2 linked regions of the Homo sapiens genome follow. The protein of the gene in region 2 interacts with the protein of the main gene of each other region in a pairwise test. Each region holds a gene or a part of one and is shown on either strand. Other genes may lie near its edges.

Region 1 (3,749 bases), on a different chromosome or scaffold from region 2:
AGTTGTATTTTACATGAAGGTCCTTCCCTGCTGGCTTGGTGCAGGTTGGAGGAATGTCATAAACCCCCTCCGGTCTGAGGTCCGGCCTTCCAGCTTGTCTCATGGGAGGGGGGAAGTCATAGTCTTTTTCCCTAAGCCCTGCTTCATCCCGGCAAGCAGAGGGCGGAATGGCATATACCTGCAAAGCAAGTAGAAAGCGAAATGCTATTTATTGAGTTGGCTCATGGGAACCTGTGGTCCCATGTGCTCAGTCCTATTTGCTGGCACTTTTTCGGTCGCCCTCCCCCGCCCCAATGTTAGGCACTTCCAAGGTTCCCCGTTATTCTGCTGTCACTTCCCTTGTCCTTTGCCAAGTGTGTCCAACCCCACGTTCTTGGTGCAGACTCGTATGTACAACCCTCCTGGCTAAATTGCTCACCCTGTGTTTCCAGTCCTGTGTTTCTGACCACCTCCTGGGTATCCTTTCTCTGCTGATCTGTGCCGAGAGGCAGAGTAAGACCAGAGTTCTCCCCCGGTCTTTTTGGTTATCACACCAGCTGTGTGATGCTGAATGAGCTGCATAGGCGTCTGAAACACAGTCCCCTTGTCTGTAAAGTAGGGATTACTGTGCCTCCTGTGCAGGCATACCCCATAGGGTAACAGAGTGAGTCAAACGAGTTCACTCAAACATACACACTGAGGAAACTGTCAAACCCTCTACAGGCCAGGCGCGGCTCAGCCTGTAATCTCAGCACTTTGGGAGGCCAAGGTAGTAGGATCATTTAAGCCCATATGTTCAAAACAAGCCTGGGCAACATAGGGAGACACCGTCTCTACAAAAAATAAAATTTATCCAGTCATGGTGGCGTGCACCTGTGGTCCCAGCTACTTGGGAGCCTGAGGTGGGAGGATTGCTTGAGCCTGGGAAGTAAAGACTGCAATGAGCTGTGGTTGCGCCACTGCACTCCAGCCTGGGTGACAGAGCGAGACCCTGTCTCAAACAAAATGTAACAAAACAAAACAAACCCTCTACAAATATATATTAGTACTTGCCAAACTGAACTAATTATCTTCCCTGCCAAAGGGTTATCCTTATTGGCCACCTAGTGTTTTTTAGTTGGGGCTTCTCAATATGAAATCCCTAGAGCTATCTTTAATTAGTGCCTTTCCTTTTTTGCTTCCTTCCTTTACTCTCACCAAGACTACATTTTCCCCTTTTGGGTTTGCCTTTCTTGTTTTATTCGAGTGAACTACTTACCCACCCTCCCAACCCTGCACCCCCCGACACACAGACACACACACACACTCCTTTTTGCTGCTTTGTAGTCACTCACTCACCCCTTTTGTAGGCGGGATGTCATACACCCCTTGAGGTTTTATCTCTCCCACTGGAACTGAAAACACAGGGCCTTTTGCTGATGAGGGAGGGATGTCGTATACCTGAAGAGAAACCCGTGAGTTACCCAGAATGGAAATGTCTTATACTTGGTCATTTTTTATGCTCCTAAGCACTTAATTATGGATTTATTTACCAGGTTATGTACAAGCTTGATCTTTGGCAGTGCTCCATGTTATAACAGATTTATTGCCTTTTTTTTTAATACATTTTATGGTTTTTAACTTACATTTAATATAAAAATGATTTTGGCCAGGCACGGTGGCTCACGCCTGTAATCCCAGCACTTTGGGAGGCTGAGGTGGGCAGATCACAAGGTCAAGAAATCGAGACCATCCTGGCCAACATGGTAAAACCCCATCTCTACTAAAAATACAAAAATTAGCTGGGTGTGGTGGTGCACACCTGTAGTCCCAGCTACTTGGGAGGCTGAGACAGGAGAATCGCCTGAACCCGGGAGGCAGAGGTTGCAGTGAGCTGAGATCGTGCCACTGCACTCCCAGCCTGGTGACAGAACAAGACTCTGTCTCAAAAAAAAAAAAAAAAAAAAAAAAAAAGATCTTATGTGAAATATCTACGCTGTCTGTACTTTAAAGTGTAGTTTAAATTTTCTACTTTCCAGCTGGGGGCCGTGGCTCACACCTGTAATCCCAGCACTTTGGAAGGCCGAGGTGGGCAGACCACTTGCAGTTAGGAGTTCAAAACCAGCCTGGCCACCATGGCAAAAGCCTGTCCCTACAAAATACAAAAATTAGTCAGGTATGGTGGTGTGTGTGCCTGTAGTCCCAGCTACTTGGGAAGCTGAGGCAGGGGCAGGAGAGTTGCTTGAGCCTGGGAGGTGGAGGTTGCAGTGAGCTGAGATAGAGCCACTGCACTCCAGCCTGGGCAACAAAGTGAGATTCTGTCTTAAAAAAAAAAAAAAGAAAAAAGAAAAATCTACTTTCTGAAGCAAAATTGTAGAAGAACATAAGCTCTCTTGGGTGAAATACTAGGATTTCCTGATAAAGCAAATCCAGAAAACATAATTTAAATAGCATTGGCTAAAGTGGCTACTGGGTAGACAACCTAAACAAAGCTTCATATGACATATATTAATGCATAATTTGTGAACTCCCTTTTCTCTACAGCCCTGAAGGAATGCTACCCTTAGAAGCGCTTCTCCTCTTGTGACCATGTTCTGGTACGCACCCCTTGAGTGGTATGAGAAGGAGGGATATCATAGACGTCCTTTTGGTATCTGGATGGGTACTCGTATACGTAGCCATGGCCTGTCCTCACGGGGGTTATCACCTGTGGGAGAGAAGGCACAGAGGTGTAAATTTCCAAGCCTGAGTCCTTGAATCTCCTTGCCTCCTAACTAAGCACTCATCCCTCAACTCTCCCTCATAAAAAGATAGAAAGAAACCAAAGAAAGAAGACATAACAGGAAGGAGACAAGTAGACACCACGTTAGTAAACTTTTTTTTTTTTTTTTGAAATGGAGTTTTGCTCTTGCTCCCCAGGCTGGAGTACAGTGGCACAATCTCAGCTTACAGCAACCTCTGCCTCCCGGGTTCAAGTGATTTTCCTGCCTCAGCCTCCTGAGTAGTTGAGATTACAGGTGCACGCCACCATGCCCAGCTAATTTTTTGTATTTTTAGTAGAGACAGGGTTTCATCATGTTGGCTGGTCTCAAACTCCTGACCTCAGGTGATCCACCCACCTCAGCCCCCAAAAGTGCAGGGATTACAGGTGTGAGCCACTGCATCTGGCCCAGGTTAGTAAACTTTTAAATCCCTCTTGAATCCCAATGAGAAAAAAAATCCCTAAAATATCTCTATCACCCTTAATTGTGATCATCTCAAAGTTCATCAGATAGAGTTGATGCACTGCAAGCATATTTCTGAAATATACTTTAAGGGATACTTGTGTGTAACTTATGAAAGTCCTAGAGGAGCATTTTGCATCTAAAGTACCGCATACTGAAATTTGCTTTAAGGCTCTGAAACAATTTGTAAAATGAATAATGCAAATAGAGTTTAGCCACTTAAAATTCCTCTCATGCCTTCCTCAGTATGCCTCTTCATTGGACATTATTATGATGATTATAACTGTAATTCCACAGGTCACCAGAGTACTTTTACAAAGCCAATGCTCAAACTGTGCTGTCCTTAGAAACCTCTGGGAGCTTTCATTCTAACGTATCAAACAAACAAAATACTGAGTCAGGGAGGCACCAGGAACAGAATTCAGGTCTCCTGACCTCTGGTCTCTAATCATTTTCCCATTTCCACCAGGAAAGAAAACATCCCCAACAGTACCTACGTCAAGGGATATCAGAAGTCAAATAGCGTTCATCACGATGCTGGCATCTGGAACCAGTGCCAATAAAATG
Region 2 (3,749 bases):
GAATTATGGATAAGAGTTTAATTTCCTTCTTTTTGCTATCTATGTTTTCTACAATCAATTTTAAACTTAAAAAAACAAAGTCAGAATAATAATTATTTATTTGATTGTGCCAAGAAATCTACTACATTAAAAAAAAAAAAAAAAAAAAAAAAGCCTGGGCACAGTGACTCATGCCTGTAATCCCAGCACTTTGGGAGGCTGAGGTGGGTGGATCACTTGAGGGCAGGAGTTCGAGACCAGCCTGGCCAACATGGTGAAACCCCGTCTCTACTAAAAATATAAAAGTTAGCAGGGCATGGTGGTGGACACCTGTAATCCCAGCTACCAGAGAGGCTGAGGCAGGAGAATCGCTTGAACCCAGGAGGTAGAGGTTGCAGTGAGCTGAGATTGTGCTATTGCACTCCAGCCTGGGTGATAGAGTAAGACTCTGTCTCAAAAAAAAGAAAAAAAACTTACGACATGATGCCCTTCCCCCCAGCCCCTGTCCACACACTTCCTGTCATGTTGTCCTTGGTTAATGATTGGCCAGATCAGGTTTACAATAAAAACCCAAGGGAAATTCTATGCCTCAATTCTGCAGACTTACTCTATTTTTCAATTTTTACAGTATTAAATGAAAAAACATTATTTATGGCAATCACCCAAATGACGATCACAAAGTATATTCTGGGCCATGAGTCTGTGGTCATGGGTTTAATTCCCCTTTTTTCCCACCTCTGGGTCACAGGATCCAGTAGGGAAGTGATGGAGAGTGTGAATAACTGCCAGCTCAATGGGGCAGAGGCAGCCTTGTTGATCTGGGCCACCTGCCCTCTCTCCTCCCGAAGCTAAGCCACTGCCTTGAGAAGGAGGGGCTGCAAATGGTCTGAGGCTGCTGGCAGCTGGCCAAGAGTTCAATTACCTGGGCCACAGCCCGCCCTCCTAGTTCTTCCGGTTACTGACTCTGTGGCTGCTGCCTCCCACAACGCTGTGCTTGCAGACCCCAGGAGCGCTGGCTGTCCCTTCACTTCCTGAACATGTGGATGTGTGCTTTGGGTTCTTGACCTCAGCTCTTCCCAAGGTCTTCTTAGAGAAGGGTCTAAATGAAGTCATTTTTAGAGTATTTGTTTTTGGTTACACAGGTGCTTCCGCCCATGTGGCCTCGGAGTGGGACCCTGCGGGTCATCAATCTGTACATTGCCTGAGAGCAGCCGTGTATGCTCTGGAAGGGACAAGACCAGGTACCTGTCGGGGGATGCGGCCGTGGTACCAGGCATGGCTGCGCAGGTCCTCGCTGCTCAGGAGCAGCTCCTCCTCCAGCTCCTTCTTCAGTTTCTCGGGGGTCCTGTCCATGATGTGCCTCTCCTTGGAGAACTGCAACACAGAGTCAACCATGAGCTCACCCTGCCCAGGCCACACCAGGCCATGCCAGCTGGAGGTGACCGCCTGCTTCACTAATCCAACCAGTTATGCTACAGCCTGCATTCAGGTAGGGGAGCCTGGATAATGATTACAAAGAGCTGTGACCTTTCGTTTCTCCGGCCGCAACCATGTAATAAAATTTTCACCTGCACATGGGGACTATGGTAGGAGAGTCCACCAAGAGGTTCCTTTTACCAGTCTACTCAAGCAGCTGGGCAGGAAGGGCCAGAGAGATGTACAGACAGCAAGACACAGCAGCCCAGCCTGCTCTCTTCCCAGCGGAGAGCTTCCTCATTCTCCTTCAGGACTGTCCTGACATAGCGTGGGGAGGGCAGCTGTTCCCTTCTGGCCTTAGATCCTGGGCCTCTGGGCAGTGAGGCCCAAAGCACAGTCCTTGGGCTGGTAGCGATGGCCCTAACTTCTTTGCTGTTGGTAAACTCATGTTCAGGAATTGAGTCAGTCTTTAGAAACTTTTAGGGCAAATGGACAGAGCAATTTTATGTCTCTTGAATCTAATAACAGAAGTCTGTCTTTATTTCACATTTCTAATATTTCATTTTTATGACAGATAGGAAAGTGAAACAAATTTAAAAAGACAACCCTGGTCCTTCACCTCAGATGTTTGAGAATCAGTGGTCTGCGGCGTTGCACAGTGGCCATGGCAGTGAGTGCTGGGTGGACAGCGGTGGCTCCAGGTTTAATTTAGAACCATGCCTGCTTACAACATGTGAACTGAACCTGGAAACCTGCCCAGTTCCCAGCAAGACCAGGCATGCTGACCAGGAACCGCTTGCTGAAAGTCCCATGAACAGAAAAAGGCTGTGTCCCTGTGGTTCTCCCAAGTTTCCCAGCTTGTCCTTCAAACCCCCATGGGAGCCACAAAATTATTACTTATCACACTACTTTTTAAAAATGTTTATTTATTTTATTTTTTTTGAGACAGGGTCTCACTGTGCTAGAGCACAGTGGTGCAATCTCAGCTCACTGTAGCCTTGGCCTCCTGGGCTCAAGCAACCTCCTGGGCTCAAGCGATCCTCCCATCTCAGCCTCCCTGGTAGCTAGGACTACAACAGGCACGTGCCACCATGCCTGGCTAATTTTTGTAATTTTTTTTTTAGAGATAGGGTTTTGCCATGTTGCCCAGGCTGGTCTCAAACTCCTGGGCTCAAGCGATCCACCCACCTTGGCCTCTCAAAGTGCTGGGATTACAGGCGTGAGCCACCATGCCCGGCCTATTACACTACTTTGCACGTCAGCAAAGAAATAGCTCCAAATCCTTTTCCACCAAACAACAACAACAACAACAACAACAACAAAGCCCTGGAATTTTAGGGCTAGATTCTCATCCTCTAGTGCTTCTTTGCACATTGGCCCATAAGGAGCGCTAGCTGAAGAGTAACTCAGGGGCTGATTTTTAGATGGGGCTCTGGCTTACTATTTGTTTACTTCTCCCTCCTTCTCACTGGGCAGACACTCACTTGGGAGTGTCTGAAGGATGGAATTTGCATCAAAGAGATGCGGACGCTGGCTGTCCAGGGTGCCTGCAGGCTTTAGACGGTGATGTTTGACACCGTCCGCTCCCATCATTAATATTGTACGGCTTCATCTGAAGACAGCTTGAGTGTGGAATGCAGTTTGTCAACTCGGCCACGCTTTATTGTTCGTTTATTGTCTGACTTGCCTCCCACTAGACTGTAAGTTTCATGAAAACAGAAATCCATCTACTTTTTCCCCACTGCCCTTGAGCAATGCCTGAAAACATCAGGCACTGGGTATTCAGTAAACAAATACCCTAGGATGAGAAAAGATGCTGACTTTGCTTAGTTATGGAGATTCTCCCTTTCGCCCTCAAGTCATCTGAAGCCCTGTTTTCGCTGGGCATGCTGCCATTCAGCCAAAAGACCACATTCCTCAATCTCTGTCTCTTCCAGGGAGATGTGGCCACAGGACTCAGTTCTGACCAAGGAGCTGAGATGTGATGGCTGGAGACTCAACACCATTCTGGACGGTGAGTGGGGAGCCACACCAAGGAATTGGCTGGGTGGAAGGTCTGATTGAGGCTGGGTCCCTGATGACTGTGGGGCCAACACACCAGCCCTGGACCGCCAGCCTCCAGGTCTTCTAGGTGATCTACCTTATGGAAGCCTGTGATTTGTGGGTGTTCCCGTCACTGGCAGCTGAACTAAATCCTAACCCATATTGTGACCTGACCCCCATTGAGTCACCCTGACAGGCAGTCTGCAGGCTTAGCCTAAATCCCTTGTGCTGCACCCTGGGCCCACTTCTTGGTCTGACCTCTGAAAATGTGGAGATCTGAAAATATACAGCAGGTCTTGCACAGTTCTTTG

Evidence for each region. The genes of interacting proteins can lie anywhere in the genome.
Region 1: the proteins of BCAR3 (region 2) and NEDD9 interact in binary tests that used the Homo sapiens proteins (3 or more experiments, as listed by UniProt).

Annotation. Positions count from the first base shown.
Region 1 is NC_000006.12:11,191,028-11,194,776, forward strand, and holds part of NEDD9 (enhancer of filamentation 1), read right to left. Parts: intron 2,666-3,749; coding exon 2,564-2,665; intron 1,420-2,563; coding exon 1,318-1,419; intron 179-1,317; coding exon 1-178. UniProt on the Homo sapiens protein: Scaffolding protein which plays a central coordinating role for tyrosine-kinase-based signaling related to cell adhesion. As a focal adhesion protein, plays a role in embryonic fibroblast migration.
Region 2 is NC_000001.11:93,591,041-93,594,789, forward strand, and holds part of BCAR3 (breast cancer anti-estrogen resistance protein 3), read right to left. Parts: exon of another isoform or gene 1,375-3,749; coding exon of another isoform or gene 1,354-1,374; coding exon 1,225-1,353; exon of another isoform or gene 928-1,224; intron 128-927; exon of another isoform or gene 1-127. UniProt on the Homo sapiens protein: Acts as an adapter protein downstream of several growth factor receptors to promote cell proliferation, migration, and redistribution of actin fibers.